Linked DNA regions of Homo sapiens: region 1 is linked to region 2. The links come from fine-mapping of genetic effects on gene expression. A gene starts in region 2. The other region holds a variant in brackets. All regions are shown on one strand. Distances are between the middles of the regions.

Region 1 (8,323 bases), 100 kb after region 2:
CTATTCACTCTACCTATGAAATACATCTCAAAGTCATCTATATTTCTCCATTTGTACTGTTCCTGCCCTATACAAGATATCACGATTTCTGGCCCATCTCAGTCCATTGCAGTGGCAGCCTGCAGCTGGTCTTGTAAGTTCTACTCCTGCACTATAATATACTCAACAAAAAATCCAAAATGATCTTTTTAAAGTATAAATTGAATCTCTAGTTTAAGATCCTTCAGTGACTTCTTACCACTCTTAGAATCAAATTCCTTCACGAGGTAACCCTTGCCAACTTCTCCCTACCTCCCACTTATACCCCTACTGCTATTATATTCTGGCCACACTGGCCTAAAAGAGTTCTTACAGCATGCCAAATTCTCACTTTCAGGGTCTATATTTGGAGACAGAGATTATAAAAGGAAACAATTTTCTAAGTACCAAAAGAACCAAGTCCACAGAATCTCACTTTAAGAAAATGTCATGAGATGTGGACACAGGAGTTTTAATGTCAGCAAGAAGCTAATATGCAGCAAAAAAGGAAAAGACTTCAACTACTATTTAAAGGAGCTTTTCAGTTATGCCCTAGGCCAGAGGCATCAAGATTATGCTAAATTATTGCCTAAAGTTACAGATTTTATCTCCTGTACACCAAAAAAGCCAACAAAATTATAAAGTCATTGGGAAATGAAATAAAAGACACTATTCTGCACATGTTTAAAACACACAGTGGGTCAGGAGCGGTGGCTCATGCCTGTAATCCCAGCATTTTGGGAGGCCGAGGCGGGTGGATTGCCTGAGGTCAGGAGTTCGAGACCAGCCTGGCTAACATGGTGGGTGGAAACCCTGTCTCTACTAAAAATACAAAAATTAGCCAGGCACAGTGGCACACGCCGGTAGTCCCAGCTACTCAGGAGGCTGAGGCAGGAGAATCGCTCAAACCCAGGAGGTGGAGGTTGCAGTGAGCCAAGATCACACCACTGCACTCCAGCCTGGGCGACAGAGCAAGACTCCATCTCAAAAAAAAAAAAAACCACACACACACATTGTGGTATCTCTAACTCATTAGGTCATTAAGTCTCAATTCCAGGAGGGGTGACTCTAAAGAAGCCTCTACAAGGGCTCTAACCCCCAACAAAATTAAAACCAGTGCTTAAGGAAAGATTAAACATTAGGTCAGATTAAAAACAAACAGACAAAACTCTTCTCCAAAAGTTTACAAAATTATTAAGGACATGATTTGATCACCATAACGGAATATATCAACACATCATGAAACATAATTAGAATGCCTTAAAGTGCAAAAGAACTGGCAAACAGGTTTATTTAGACCAAATGTAACTGTATCACTCATCAGGTAGTCAATTTATGAAACTTCCTTACCCTATAACATAGGCTGGGTGAAAATATCATTAGACATAAGAAGGGTTTAGATTAACCTATGGATAGCAGCTCTGTAACAAGGGAAGAGAAAAAGCAACGTCTTGGGAATTGGCTCCTAACCTTCGTGTGTGAAACCAAGAAAAGCAAAATGCATTACTATAAAAAGGCTATTGTTGCCACTGTCAAGCAACCCAGAGCACTGGACTAATGTGATAAAAGAGTCGTATCCTGTGGGTAATCTTTTAAAATCAACTTTTCAGTCTTTTTCTTCACCAGTTAAATAACCCTCTACGATTTTCCCCTTTCCACACGTCCTACTATCTAAGTGGAATAGGTTGTCTGCTTTTCATTTGCACGTCTTGCTTTCCTAACTCTTGTTAGCTGTCTCACAGAGATAGCCACATTCAAGCCTGCTATCCTTATGCTGCTTAAGAGATGCCTGAATTTAACATCCAAATGCCTCATACAATCTCCCCCAGTCAATCCTGAGAAAATCCTCTCTAAATTCCCATCTGATCACTGCCCAGTGAGGTTACCAGCAGCCCTTAGAAGCCCCAACTCACATGGTACTTTCGTGCTGCCGCCGGGGAGTGACAAAGAGCATGCGGGTGGGGCGGGCACTACTGGCATCTGGGTGGGCACTCCAAGGCTTGGCATAGCTATGATCCAGAAAAACCAGGTCCAGCTCCCGTTCATGCACTGAAAGCTGGAAGAGCAGCGAGGTGCCCATGCGTCGAGCTGAAGTCTGGAAGTCCCTCTCCCCACCCCGGTGGGCCATGTCAGTGGAGGGGCAGAAAGTCAGAGCATGGGTATCTGCATGCTAGTCACCTGCAGTGAAAAGTTTCAGTTTAGGTCAATTCCAATATCCTAAATTTCTCCCAATCTACACCATCTAACATGCTTACTTTTGTAACCTACTATCATTCCTATTGAGTATCCATTTCACGGCAGACCTCTGGTGGGGACGGTTCGTGGAATCCCACACCAACACCAAAAAAAAAGAAAAAAAAAACTATGGTGCCACGAGTTGTCCCATACTCAACCTCTAGCGAACTGAAATTACCTAACGGGAGAGCTCACCGACCCCAAGGTTCAGAAAGACCTCGCGTGGACAGACAGTAAACTTGCTTGGCCAGCACCACTTCCTAGGTGGGCAGGAAGGGTTTTGACAAACAGGAAATCACAAATATGAATTCGTTGAAAGCTAAGGATCTCTGTTGCTTCACACCATCCTCTAACGACAATGCGAAGGGAGCCGGGGCCGCAGCTAGAGCGTGGGCACCCCTAAAGGGCAGGGCAACGCCGGCCTCAAAAAAGCGAATCCCAGCTAGGGCTCCACTTCTTCAAGCCTCTCGTATTGTGCGAAACAAAAGTTCTGTTAAGTACTTCGTAATATTCCAGAGTTGTTTACATAAAAATGAAAACTGCCCCCCCAACAAAGCCTGTGACAAAATGATCCCCGTGGAAGCCCTTTCACCCTCACCCCCAGTGAGGCGTCCCTAGCAAACCGCCCAGGACCCCGGCTGCCCCGCAGGCGTTCCCGCCACTGAGCCTCCACACGGCCCATCTAGGAGACAGGGCTATGACTCGCATTTTACAGACGAAGTCGCCAGCTCGGGGAACTGAAGCGATTTGGCCAAGGTCATCCAGAGTTCGCGACGAGGAGGAGCCGCCTGGCCCCCGCCTCCCGCCTCCCGCTCCCTGGGGCAGGGCTCGGCGTCCGCGTCACGGAGGCCCAGACGCGGCCCCTGCCAGCCCGCCCCCGGCCCGACCCGCCCCGCCCGACCAGCACCGGCAGCCGGCCCTAGCCCGGGCCCCCGCATGCCCCGGGAGCCCTGAAGCCCTCGCCGAGACCCCCGGCCGTCCCAACCACGGCCGCGATCCCCACGGCCCGCCACTCCCCTCGAAGCCAACGCTGCTCTCACCCGCGGTCTTACGGCCGCGCGCTCGGCCACGGCCGGATCCCTAAGCGCGTGCGCGTTAACGCCTCCACGCCCCGGCGCTGCGGGCACCGAGTAAAACGCGGAAGCGGGTTACGGCCTGGGAAGGGAGAGGCGGTGAGCGGCAAAGCCCGGAACGGATGAA[G/C]CTCCGGCGCCTCTGTCCGGAAGAGGAGAGCCAAGAACACGCGAGCATGTCCGAAGCAGAAAGTCAACAACTAGGCTGGAGTTTCCCCCTCGCGCATATTCAGTAGGGAAAGCGAGGGCGGAGGACTAGGCTGGCTTCTACGGCCCCAGTTCTCGCCACCCCCACCGTGTTGGTCCTTTGTGCCCTCTGGGCGGTCGAGCACCCAACGGTCCACCTCCACCAGGGCAGCCACCTGAATTTACTCATTAAGAATTTACCTAATGTGGCTCACGCCTGTAATCCCAGCGCTTTGGGAGGCCTAGGCGGGAGGACCTCTTGAGCTCAGGAGTTTGAGATGAGCCTGGCCAATATGATGAGACCCCCGTATCTACAAAAAATTTTAGAAATTAGGTGTGTGTGATAGTGGTGTATGCCTGTAGTCCCAGCTACCCGGGAGGCTGAGGTGGGAGGATCACTTGAGTCTGGGAGGTCCAGGCTGCAATGAGCCATGGTTGCACCACTGCACTCCAGCCTGGACGACGGAGTGAGACTACGTCTCAAAAAAAAAAAAAAAGAATTTTGTTACTGACCCTAGATTGTTTTGTGTGGTTAACTTTCCTATGTGTTTTGTGTAGAGAGAGTAGATCCTCAAAATCAGGGACATTAACCTTTGTATCCTCCAGAGAACATACACCCAGAACATAGGTAATTGTTCAAATGTTGACTGATCAATAATTGGTTATTTGGTTGACTGACTGACAACATGACATCAAGAGACATGAGACAAGACAGCAAGAGACATGGTTCAAGATGATAAATCTCACCCGGGATCTGTGGCTCATGCCTATAATCCCAGTACTTTGGGAGGCCAAGGTGGGAAGATTGCTTGAGCCCAAGAGTTCAAGACTAGCCTGCACAAAACAGTGAGACTTCGTTTCTATTTAAAAAAAGAAATGGCCGGGTGCGGTGGCTCACGCCTGTAATCCCAGCACTTTGGGAGGCTGAGGAGGGTGGATCACGAGTTCAGGAGTACAAAACCAGCCTGGCCAACATAGCGAAATCCTGTCTCTACTAAAAATACAAAAATTAGCCAGGTGTGGTGGCGCATGCCTGTAATCCCGGCTACTCGGGAGGCTGAGGTGGGAGAATCTCTCAAACTCAGGAGGCAGAGGTTGCGGTGAGCCAAAATCGCGCCATTGCACTCCAGCCTGGGCGACACAGCAAGACTCTGTCTCAAAAAAAAAAAAAAGATAGGTACAGACATGCAAACACTCGAAACATTCAGAAAGCCACTCAAAGCTGTGTTCCACAAAGATGAGAGGGTAAACTGAGAAGACGGAAGGCATAGGATCGGGGAAGCAGGGTCTAACACAAGAAGCAGACGAGGAATTCTGAAGGTGATGGCAAAGAGTATCCCAGGACAATAGCTATGCTGCAGGACTGGGGACCACTAGTCTCAGCTGGGGGAGAAGAGAAGACCAGGAGGGAGAGCCCCGGGGAAAACAATAAAACTGGGAAAATGCCTCATAGATTTGAAAAAATCAAGGAATGCTATTTAAAAGTGCTGTTTAGAAATATGGAGCTTAAGGCCATAGAAATTATCACAAATAGAGCAGCCCCTGCCCCACCTCTCCCTACCCTTAACTTTGTCTCCTGGGCGCTTGTTTGGGGCCAGGGTTCTGCTATTTCTCTACTTATATTCCCATTCCCACTAAAAACAGATTTGTATCTTTTCTCTGCCCCTTCCTTTCCTCAGCACACCACGTTTATCATTTTGTTTCATTCTTTGCCAATTTAAGAGGTGATAAATGGTATCTTATCCCATTTATTTGCTTATTAATGAGTTTTTTGTTTTGTTTTGTTTTTGTTTTTTTGAGACAGAGTCTCTCTCTGTCGCCCAGGCTGGAGTGCAGTAGCGTGATCTCGGCTCACTGCAACCTCCACCTCCCTGGTTCAAGCGATTCTCCTGCCTCAGCCTCCCGAGTAGCTGAGACCACAGGCGTGTGCCACCATGCTCGGATAATTTTTTGTATTTTTAGTAGAGACGGGGTTTCACTGTGTTAGCCCGGATGGTCTCGATCTCCTGACCTCGTGATCCGCCCGCCTTGGCCTCCCAAAGTGCTGGGATTACAGGCGTGAGCCACCGTGCCCAGTGAGTTTGATTTTTTTTTTTTACATCTTTTTTGGCTTTTGAAACCAATTTGGCAAAGTCATAAATTGTATTTCATTGTATTTCTTTGATTATTAACAAGACTGAGGGTTTTTTAAAAAAAATTTTTTTTTGTCATTTTGGGCAATTATCTGATAGGAGCTTTGCCTTTGTTTTCCTTTGGGATAGTCATCCTTTTCTTATTAAGAGCTTGCTCTATAAACATTTATTAAATAAACTGTTGGACATTAAGTATATTGAAAATGTTTTCCCTGCTTTGATATTTGTCTTCTAGCTTTAAGGCATAATTTCTACATAGGAATTTTTTATTTAATACAGTCAAATCTGTCAGCTTTTCACTTACAGGGTCTTTTGTGTCACGCTTACTTTGAAAAGCCATTCACAAAGCGAAAAGCACTGTGTTGTGTTTAGATTTCAAGAAAAACTTCCAAGAAGCACTTTTTTTTTTAATCTGCTGCACTAGAAAGCAATCAGCACCCTGATCACTGACCCAGCGTTTCAGTCTTTGAATCCATTCATCTCTTAGACTGCGTGGTACGCTTACTGCTAAGTAGTTGTTTCATTAACTAATAGATTGTTCTTAAACATTGTTTTTTTTTTTTTTTTTTTTTTTTTTGAGACAGTCTTGCTCTGTGGCCAGGCTTGTGTGCAGTGGCGTGATCTCGGCTCACTGCAACCTCCGCCTCCCAGGTTCAAGCGATTCCCCTGCCTCAGCTCCGGAGTAGCTGGGACTACAGGCGCGCAATACCATGCCCGGCTAATTTTTTGTATTTTAGTAGGGACGGGGTTTCACCATGTTGGCCAAGATGATCTTGATCTCCTGATCTCGTGATCCGGCCGCCTTAACCTCCCAAAGATCTGGGATTACAGGCTACAGGCGTAAGCCACCACGCCCGGCCTTTTTTTTTTTTTTTTTGAGACAGAGTCTCGCTGTGTTGCCAAGGTTGGAGTGCAGTGGTGCAATCTTGGCTCACTGTGACCTCCACCTCCCAGGTTCAAGCGATTCCCCTGCCTCAGCCTCCCAAGTAGCTGGGATTGCTGGCACGTGCCACCACGCCCAGCTAATTTTTGTATTTTTAGTAGAGATGGGGTTTTGCTATGTTGGCCAGGCTGTTCCCGAACTTCTGGCCTCAAGTGATCCGTCCACCTTGGCCTCCCAAAGTGCTGGGATTACAGGCATGAGCCACCAATCCCAGCATTTAAATATTCATTAGTTTTCATTCTAACTATTGGATAAGATGTAATTTATACGATGTTCAACCCTAAAGCCTAAAAAGCCTTGCTGTGGACAATAAGAATAGGTGCCCCAGCTCCATCTTAATGCACAGAGGCTCAGACAGCCATAAAGACAGCCACTTCAAAACCGCATTGTCTTCTTTGACCTTCCATATGAGCTCATTAATTCAAAAGCTAATTTCCTTTTGTCAAAGAGGGTCTCGTATCTAAACTTAGGTTTTTCTTAGTAAAAAGGTTTCCACGTTAGGAAGAACTTTCCCTGAGACCTCACAGAAATAGTCCTTGATTTTCCTATCCCTTTTCTCAGGTCACTTCACTGTTTTCTTATTTTCTCATCTACATTGTGTGACTTTGGCAATGATTGGCTCCAGACAACTTGCTTGTACAAGGAGAAAACATCAACCTTATGTCTGACCTTGAAATCAAAAGGACGGCAAGGAGGGCAGGTGTGGGGTGGGCAAAAAAAAATTTTTTAAGGCCAGACTTGGTGGCTCACGCCTGTAATCCCAACACTTTGGGAGGCCGAGGTGGGCAGATCACCTGAGGTCGGGAGTTCGAGACCAGCCTGACCAACATGGAGAAACCCCATCTCTACTAAAAATACAAAATTAGCCGGGCGTGGTGGCGCATGCCTGTAATCTCAGCTACTCGGGAGGCTGAGGCAGGAGAATCGCTTGAACCAGGGAGGTGGAGGTTGCGGTGAGCTGAGATCGCACCATTGCACTCCAGCCTGGGCAATAAGAAAAGGGGGTGAAAGCAGCCAGGTGGTTTTGTTTCTACAGGCCCAGTCACCTATACCCTGTTCCTCCTCCCCCTTCTCTTTCCCATTAATTCCTCTCCAGAACCAAGAACCGCCCACCTTTGTGACAGCCTGTCTGTTGCTTAGCAACAGACAGGAAGTGGGGCTCCACTCACCCCAGGATCGCTGGGAAAAGTCTTGGACTGAGGAGCTCCAAAAAGGAAGCTGTGGCGCTGCGTAGGGAAGGAGGGAAGAAAGTAGGTCTCCGAGATGCTGCGGCTTGTGGTGCAGTCGGCCAAGATTGACCCACCACTAGCCCCACTACCCAGGCCCTGCATGTCCATCGACTTCAGAGGTGAGAGCCTCCCTGGGTCCACATGGGAGAGAGAAGCCCCCAGAGGCAACATGGATTCAGTGAAAAAAGAGGTGTATGGCACCCCACTACATAAAAGATGCCCTGTGTAACACAAAGTGAAGTAGACGTTGTCCAGCTCTCTCAAAACTTATTGCTATCATTTGATTATGACTTCTCTGCCTCCCACTTTTGCTAGGGAATGGCTATGGAAAAAAGAGAGGACTAGTGCTTCTGGACCTTCTTCCATGACCTGGAGCTGTGCCATAAACTAAGGTTTAAAGAGAAAGTCCCTGCTTCCTCAGATTGATGCGGGAGTTTAAAAAGATAATATGTGTATAGCCCTTAGTACAACTTTTAGTAATAACTGCTTGATCATATTAGTTTCATTTGC
Region 2 (8,323 bases):
AGAACCATGGGTTTCTACCCTGCTGGGACACACTGGGGAGATGTGGGGTGGAGAGGGGAAACCAGCCCAGCCCTGGCCCAACACAGGAAATCTTTCCAGATTGGCTGGAGGTTGGAGGGAACCTAGAGCCAGGTGCAGATGCAGCTTCCAGTGTGGACAAAGCTTGGGAAGCTGGTTTACACGCGCCCTGGGGTACAGTGGCCAAAGCTCTTTCAGGCAGGAAGTTGGCCCTTGGTGATCTGGGACTCACAACCACCTCCCCACTCCTTCACCCCCAGCAGTTCCCCAAAGGCCAAAAGCTATTCTTGTCTTTTTCTAAAAGAGGCATTTGAACCATGAGCCAATTTTTTCCATTCCTGAGCTTGGGTATCATCTATTTCGGGCATTTGTTGTTTTCCATGAGTTGCAAATGCTGCTGTGAAGCTGGCCTTTCCTGGACAGCTAGCACGGGGAACGAGGAGTTAGGCAAGCAGGGCGGGGCCGCGTTAAAAATACTTCCCCACTTCATTTCTCCTTTGAAAACAAACCCCCAGGGGCCTTTGGCAACTGCTGAGCCTGGGAACTGAGCTTCCCAGGATAGAAGACTGGCTGTGCATTCTGTTTCCTGAGGGCACTGGATGGGTTTGCAGGTCCCAGAAGAAACAAAAGCACTGATTTTGCTGTGTGACTTTGGACAGTTTGCTTAACCTCTCTGGCCTGGTGACCTCCTTTCTAAAATGAGACCAGGTGGACAGATGATCTTGAATGGTCCCTATATCTCTGAGAGCTCCAGGATGAGAACCACCCCCAGGGCCAGATTTTCTTCCTAGAAATGGGCTAACAAGAGGTGCTAGGACATGGAGGTGGGAGTTAGAAAGCAGCTTTTAGCTCAGTCTCTGGGAACACTTTGTGAGCTCCTTAGCCCTGGAACTGTTCTAAGGGGGTCTATAATGTTCTCAGCAGGATTCATGTAATTGCAAAAAGATTAAACGCTATCAAGAGGAGATTAAATACACTGTGCTGGGCACACAGCCCAGCAGTTCCCAAAGAAGCAGATCTGTGTTCCAACAAGGAAAGTCTGTAAGATCTAGCGGTGATCGAAAAAGCAAGTTTCAGAATGGAGCAATGAGAATTGTATCGTTTCTTTAAACACACACATAAAACAAAGCTATCTATTTTTCTATACCATGGATACATATATAGTTTTGAAAATACACATAGGGAAAGTTCTGGAAGACTTCACCCAATCTGATGGGTCTTTACCTCTGGGGCAGGGAGGGAACTGGATTTGGTGTAGCATCAGAGAGGGCTGATTTACTTGCATGTTTTTACAGGACGAATGTGTTTATTTATAAGTGATGGTTTGTTTTTCTTATTATTAAGACACACAGAGAGACACCAGGACACTGAGGGGCTAGCTGACCCCCTCTGTAGGCACAGAGGCGTCCTGGCCTGGGATCCTGTGGTTGGAGGGTGCAGAGGAGGGTGGCTTTGGGCCGGAGTGGAGGTGTGTGAGATGGAGGCTTGAGCAATGGAAGTGTTTATGCTTTTAGCCAGATGAATGGAGATGTCTGTTTTCTGCAGGATTTACTGGCCATTGTAAATTACTTTCTATTGCAAACAGTTGCCTCAGGAAGCAATTAAATTTAGATCCTATCGTTCCCAGGCTGGCACAGGCAGGTGTTGACTTGCTGAGGCTTTGCACAACAGCCCTTGTCTGTCAGAATGTGCCCAGCTGCCCGGATGGCAGAATAACCCTAACTCTTGGTGGGATGAGCTGCTGTCTTATAAGATAGTGAGTTCCTTGTCATTAGGGGTATCCAACCCACAAGTGAGGGGTTGGCCTAGATTGTGACCCCGGGGGCTGCATCCAGAGCTCCATCCCCAACCTTGGGCATAGTGCCTGCCAATCAATGCTTCCAGAATGTACAAAGGTGCTTCCTGATGGCATCCCATCATAGTGTCTTCCACCACAGCCTTAGCTTTCCTGGAGGGGAAAGTGGCTTGTAAACTTGCCAAAGTGGGATGCATTGTTATAATTACCATTATGATTGTTCTGGGTGTCTATTACCAATTCTACAGGTGCTGGCTCTTACAAGCCAACCCATTATGAGGTAGACAGGGGATTTATCCTGCAGAGCCCACAGGGTCGTCTGCTCTAGACTGAGCCTGCAGACATCTTCCATCCCAGGGCCAAAGGGTAAGGGCCAGGGTTTCAGGTTCACCAAACTGCAGCCCTGGTCCCTTCGTTTAGTGTGAGGAGGGGCACCAGTATGATGAGTGGTTAGTAATGGGTGCAAAGCGGGTGGGGGGATGCCTGGGTATGAGGGCTCCTCTTCCTGGGTCTAGCTCTGGCTCCAACACCTACCAGCTGTGCTACTTGAGCTAATCTCTCAGACCTCAGTTTTACGCTATAAAATGAGGACAATGATGGTGTCAAGTGCATAGAGCTATTATGAGTATTAAAATTCATCAACAAAGATTTTTGTGTAGCTTCTATGTGCTAGGAACAGGGTTCCCATCCTAGCTAGCCACCTGCTGAGACTGAAACCCTGAGCCTCCATTTCTTCCTCTTTGGCCTGCACAGGTCCAGGTTGCTGCTATGGCTGGCTGGGCACCTCCTCCTGCCTCCATTCGCCCTAGGCCTCATTCCCACCTCCCACAGCCTGAACTCATGCCCCTTCTTTGGACTACTCAGCTTGTAGCTGCCACACTCTGTCTGCATTATGTGTGTGGACATTGACTATTACTGGCAGGCCTGGCCACAGAGCCTAGGCCAAGGATTTACTAGTTTGGTCCTTGTCTAGCTCACACTAACCACCTCTCCTTTTTTTTTTTTTTTTTTTTTTTTTTTTTTTTTTTGAGGCAGGGTCTCCGTCTATTGCCCAGGATCCAGGATAGAGTGCAGTGGTGTGATCAAAACACACTGCAGCCTCGACCTTCTGGGCTCAAGTGATCCTCCCGCCTCCGCCTCCCAAAGCAGGGATTCCAGGCGTGAGCCGCCGCTCCCGGCCTCACCTGGCCTTCTTTGTTGGGCTAGGTGGGGACTGGGAAATGCACAGGGCCACTTTCAAATCAAAGTCAGAAGCACTTTGCTCGCTCCACAGAGTCCTCAGTGCTCTGCTGAAAGCAAGGAGGCTTTTTCCAAGGCTCTAGTTTTGCCTCCAGGGAAACTGAGGCACAAGGCAGCAATGATTACTGAGGGTCCTGCCTCCGCTCCTCTAGGTGAGGAGCCTATTCCAGGGGCTCCAGTCTGAAAGCCTAGAGGCGAGGGGCGCGCACTACAATTCCCAGAGGTCCCCGGACTCAAGGGCGGTCCCCGCCCCCCGCCTTCTCCGCGCGACGAAGCCGGGCTTACCAATGGGAGCCCGGAGTGGGGCGAGCAGGGGCGGGACGGGGCGGGACTGCGGGGAGGTGGCCGGCGGGCCGCGCCGCGAGCCAGTATCTCAGAGAGCGCGGGGTCCGGACAGCCGCGCGCTGAGGGTCTCGGGGCGGGCGCCGCGGGACCTCTCCGGGCCATGGGTAAGCGGCTCTGCGGCGCGGCCCGGACAGGGGCTCGGCGGCCCTGCAGGGAGGTTCAAGGTGCCGGCGCCGGGTCCCCTCCAGCCCTCGTGGCAGTCGGTGCGCTGTGTGGGGCGGAGAGGGGCCCGGGGTGGGTTTCGGGGCGCGGGCCAAGGGGAGCGAGCCCGGCCCGCGGCTTCAGCGCTCCCCGGCCGGCGCGGAAGGGGTGAGGCTGGGCGTCCGCGCGAGCTTCGAGAAAAGGAAAGACAAAAAGTTTTGGCGGCCAGGGGCTTCCCGGGCGTTTATCTCGAAACTCTTTTCGCCGTCTCTTGCCTGAAATATGCCGAGCCCGGTACGGCTCTGTCGTCCCACTTCCTGCTGCGGTTTCCACCTCGAGCTGGGCTCAGCTAATTTGTTGTGACAGCTGTCGGCAGCCGCCCCTCCGCCCCGTGACATCCCGCAGGTTTCAGAACCGCGGCGCCGCCGGGCACAGACTCCGGGTCCAGAGCGCGCGGCCCTTTCCTCTGCGGCCGCCGTTTCCTGAAAGGGGCTGCGCGGGTGTGAAGAACTTGCTCAATGCGCTTTGTAGGATCCACTGTTCCTCTTTCGGCCGCGGGCTGCGCCGATGGTCCGGGGAGCCCGGCTTCTCGCCCCCTGCCCCTTCCTTCTCTTCCCTTTTCTCTTTTCCTCTCCTGTCTCTCCGCCCACCCGCCGCAGCCCCACAGGAGAGGGGTCGCTTCCCTGGTTGCTCTCCTCTCCTGTCCCTTGTGTGTCCCCTTGTCTTCCCTCGGTCTGCAGAAGGGACGGGGTGGCGGCTGGGGAGCGTCAGGGGAAGAGGGCAAGAGCGTGGGCTACGAGCTTGCAGGCGATGCCCGGCTTCGCGCTCGGCGGGAGCTGCGGGCCAACCCGGGCCCGCGCTCCGTCCCTCCGCGGTGTCTAGGGGTCGCCCGGGCTGGGGTCGCGTCACCCTCCGCCCAGCGCCGGCGTGGTGGGGCTTGCGCGGTGCAGGACCCCCGAGGGCCCAGGGGGTCCCAAGGCGCTGCGGGTCCAGTGTCCCTTTGTTTGCAGAGTCTTGGGCCAGTAAGGAGTGCTCCGCGGGCCCCAGGGGAGGACAACAGGTGCCTCTTGCCCCACCCGGGCTCCTCTGGTGGGAGCCCACACGCACGGTGGCGTCACTGCGCCTACAGGCAACGCTAGAGCACAGGAGGGGTGGGAGGTCGGGGCTCGAGGGCTTCACCCCGCAGCAGAGCTCAGAGCCCAATCCAGGCCTTAGGGACCCGCCTGGGGCCTAGAACTTGGTGTGGCAGAGGTAGAAAGGGCCTCCGATAATCTGCTTCTACAGTTGAGAGACGTCAACTGGCACCTCTGAGCCTCTGCCCCGTAGGTGAAATGGGAACACACGAAACCATCTGAGGAGCTCTCACTGTCCGTCACCACCAAATGTGGCCCAGACTCCGTGGGGAGGGACAGTCCCATCCTGGAACTGGGGCTTTTAGGACATCCCAGAGCCCGGTAAGAGGGACAGGGAGAATGGGGCTTGGAAGTTGGTAGCCTCACATTCAGTGTCCCCCGCACCTCCTTCCCTTTCTGTACCCTCTGGTGGCTCTTGTGGCCTCAGCTGCCCCCAGACCCTGTCTCTCTCGCCCTCCCCCAAGCTGAGGTACTGAGGTTGGGCTGTGGCTTGAGCTGCACCTGTGCCCTGTTAGGGAGTGGGGGTCCCAGGCCCATCGCGTTTCTTCTCACTGCTGGCTCCAGCTCAACACTTGGCAGGCCCCCCTCCCCAAACTGCTGGAGCAAGCTCGCGTAGACTCGGCCTGGCCGCCGCTCCCGGGCTGCCGAGTGGACCGGCCGTTTCGCCGCTTCAAAGGCTGTCTTTGTTTTGCTCCAGCTCAAGCTTAGAGAAACTTAAGCCAACAACCTCAGCCGAGGGGGCGGGGCGGCGTCTGCTGGTTGTTATTGAGGCTGCTGTTACCATTATTGTGGTAATTGACGCAGTGTTCCCAGTCGGTGACTTTTCATGAAAGGAAGTGTCACTTCCTTCCCATCACACCCAGGGTGAGTGGGGCGGGCAGCAGAAAGATGGGGAGGGAGAGAAGGAAAGGGGTGTGTGCCTCCAGCAGACCCTTAAACTTGAGAGCTGTGTGGCCTTGTACTAGTCACTGCCCCTCTCTGGGCAACAGGGGTCTGTAAGTCCATTGCGCTCATCCTGCACCCAGGAGGCTGATGTTTCCGGAGCACCTGCTGGGCAGCGAGGTGCCTTGGGGAGGGAGCAGGACAGGCAGGCCTCTGATCTTCTCACTGAGCCTGGCTGTGGTTTGTGGGGGAAGCCTCCTTTCTCTTCTCACTTTTTTCTGCTGAGAACATTGGGCACATTGAGTCTAGCACGCCCATCTTGTAGATGGGGAAAGGGAGATACAGAACCAGTGACCAACTTGGTAAGAGGTGCAGCCATGCAGTGCTGGAACCCCTTGCCCCATCTGTCCTCTTGGCCCACTTTCATCTGCTTCCAGCTTGATGTCTGGCAGGGCAGGGGCCCACTGACTTCCCCGCATCCACCCACTGCCTGGCCCCATAGCTACCTTCTAGTCCTGGCTAAGCCCCGTGAGACATCTTAAGTTTGTCTTCAGTGACTCTCAACCACCGCCCGACTGCCTTCACCTTCCTGCCTTTGCATACCTGCCTTTGCTTCGCCAGGTTGGTTGGGCCCTGGCCAGAGCTGGCCCCCTACTCTCTCAGGTAACAGGTAGCAGTTTTTTAAATGGAATCTCAGTAGGTATCAACAGGTCTTTCCTCCTTCCTCAAGATTATGGAGATAACACCCCTTATTCAAAGATGGTGGGTCCTCTGGGCCCTCCCCGACCCAGGCCAGGGAAGTTGATTCATAGAGTGTGGGGGCCATGCCCCTTCCCGGCCCTCCCCCTCTCCCCGCTGCTGCCCAGCTCTCTGACCAGCCCCCTCCCATCCCTGAGCCTGGATGCCTTAGCAGTCAACACAGACCTGCTCTTGTTAGCAGAGTGACAGGAGCGATGTGCTGGGAAACTGCACATCTACTTGGGGAAAGGGGACAAGTTTGCATCCTCTGAGCACAGATAAGGAACTTGAGGTCTCCCTGCTCCCATTAGAAAGAAAAAAATCTCTAGCTCTCAGGGATCAGCGTCTCTCAGGAGTCAGACTACCCTGGTTCTGAATCCCAGCTCTGCCATGGATAAGCTCTGTGGCCCCAGGCAAGTTACTGAACCTCTCTGAGCCTCAGACATTATATCTGTTATATCTGGATGGCTGGGAAGATTCAGCAATGCAATGTTGTATGAGATGCCTAGCCCACACCAGCCAGGGCACTGATTTGAGTCGGTGGAGCATGTAACTTGAGAACAAGTAGACCTATGGGAGCATCCTCTACTGGAGGCAGTGACAGACTAACATCTTCAGTGCTGGAGTTTTAGGATCTGGGAGTTGAGCTTGACTCAGACAGGAGCTATGGAGTTGGAAAGAAATCAGACTCATAGCACAGGAAGAGCCTCAGGCAATCCTCCTGCCCAGCACCCTGCCGCACCCCCTCTCTGCTTAGTAAGGGACTGGGTCACTAGGAGCCCAGGCTCATCTTCTGGCGCAGCCACCTAGCCTGCCTCGGCCCTCTTCCCAGCAGTGAAATGAGGAAATCGCAGGGGGGCTTTTGTGGAGTGAACTACTGTTATCAGGGTTTTTCTAACACCATTTTCTAGCTGCACAAAACTCAAGGAACAAACTAGGAATAAACCTCCCCAAGAAAGCACAGGGGCTTTTTAAGAAGGAACTTCTGAGGACTGCAGAGGGAAACCTGAATTATGGAGACACATGGTCCTGAAAAGAAAGATGCAATACTGTAAAGGTATTATTTCTCCTCAAAGTAGTTTCTAAATTTAAATGCAATCAAAGCCCCAGTAGTGGGGGTTTTTTGTTTGTTTGTTTGTTTGTTTTGGAGACGGAGTCTCTGTCACCCAGGCTGGAGTGCAGTGGCCTAATCTCAGCTCACTGCAACCTCCACCTCCTGGGTTCAAGCAATTCTCCTGCCTCAGCCTCCCGAGTAGCTGGGATTATTGGCGTGTGCCACCACGCCCACTAATTTTTGTATTTGTAGTGGAGATGGGGTTTCACCATGTTGGCCAGGCTGGTCTCGAGCTCCTTACCTCAAGTGATCTGCCTGCCTTGGCCTCCCAAAGTGCCAGGATTACAGGCGTGAGCCACCGCACCTGGCCTTTTTTTTTTTTGAGAAGGAATCTCGCTCTGTCGCCAGGCTGGAATGCAGTGGCGCGAGCTCAGCTCACTGCAACCTCCACCTCCTGGGTTCAAGCGATTCTCCTGCCTCAGCCTCCTGAGTAGCTGGGACTACAGGCATGCGCCACCACCCCCAGCTAATTTTTGTATTTTTAGTAGAGACGAGGTTTCACCATGTTGGCCAGGATGGTCTCGATCTCTTGACCTCATGATCTGCCCGCCTCGGCCTCCCAAAGTGTTTTTGTTTTTGTTTTTTTTTAAAGGGAATGTAACAGAATTATCCCAAAGTTCAAATGGAATATTTTTAAAAGATGAGTAATATTGGGCAACTTGCCCTCTGGATAGTAAGTTGTTTTATAAAGCTACAAAAATTAAAACAGTGTGCACAGGTCCTAGCATCCCACTGTGGATGAGACAGAATAGAAAGTCCAGAAATAGTCCCAGATGTGTTCCTTATAAGCACTGACATTATGGGGAAAGTAGCATTTTACACCATTGGAGGAGGAGGCTACTCACTGGGGCCCCCAACCAATGAGGGGAAAGTATGGCTAGGATCCCTATTTCATCCTGTATACTGGAATAGATTCCA

What was found. PIP is the estimated chance that this variant, and not a neighbour inherited with it, causes the effect.
Region 1: its variant is fine-mapped to the expression of ARID5A in whole blood (INTERVAL, PIP above 0.99).

Annotation. Positions count from the first base shown.
Region 1 is chr2:96,634,990-96,643,312 of GRCh38, forward strand. KANSL3 (KAT8 regulatory NSL complex subunit 3) reads right to left here and starts at 3,323. Exons shown (of 21, transcript NM_001115016.3): 1 at 3,294-3,323; 2 at 1,932-2,196. The coding sequence starts at 2,146. FER1L5 (fer-1 like family member 5) reads left to right here and starts at 7,775. Exons shown (of 53, transcript NM_001293083.2): 1 at 7,775-7,932. The coding sequence starts at 7,848. RefSeq lists an enhancer at 983-1,092 and a silencer at 3,043-3,252. The variant G/C (reference allele first, on the strand shown) is at 3,454.
Region 2 is chr2:96,533,330-96,541,652 of GRCh38, forward strand. It overlaps ARID5A (AT-rich interaction domain 5A), which reads left to right and starts at 3,423. Exons shown (of 7, transcript NM_212481.3): 1 at 3,423-3,501. The coding sequence starts at 3,498. RefSeq lists silencers at 3,342-3,701, 4,382-4,591 and enhancers at 4,862-4,981, 5,199-5,744.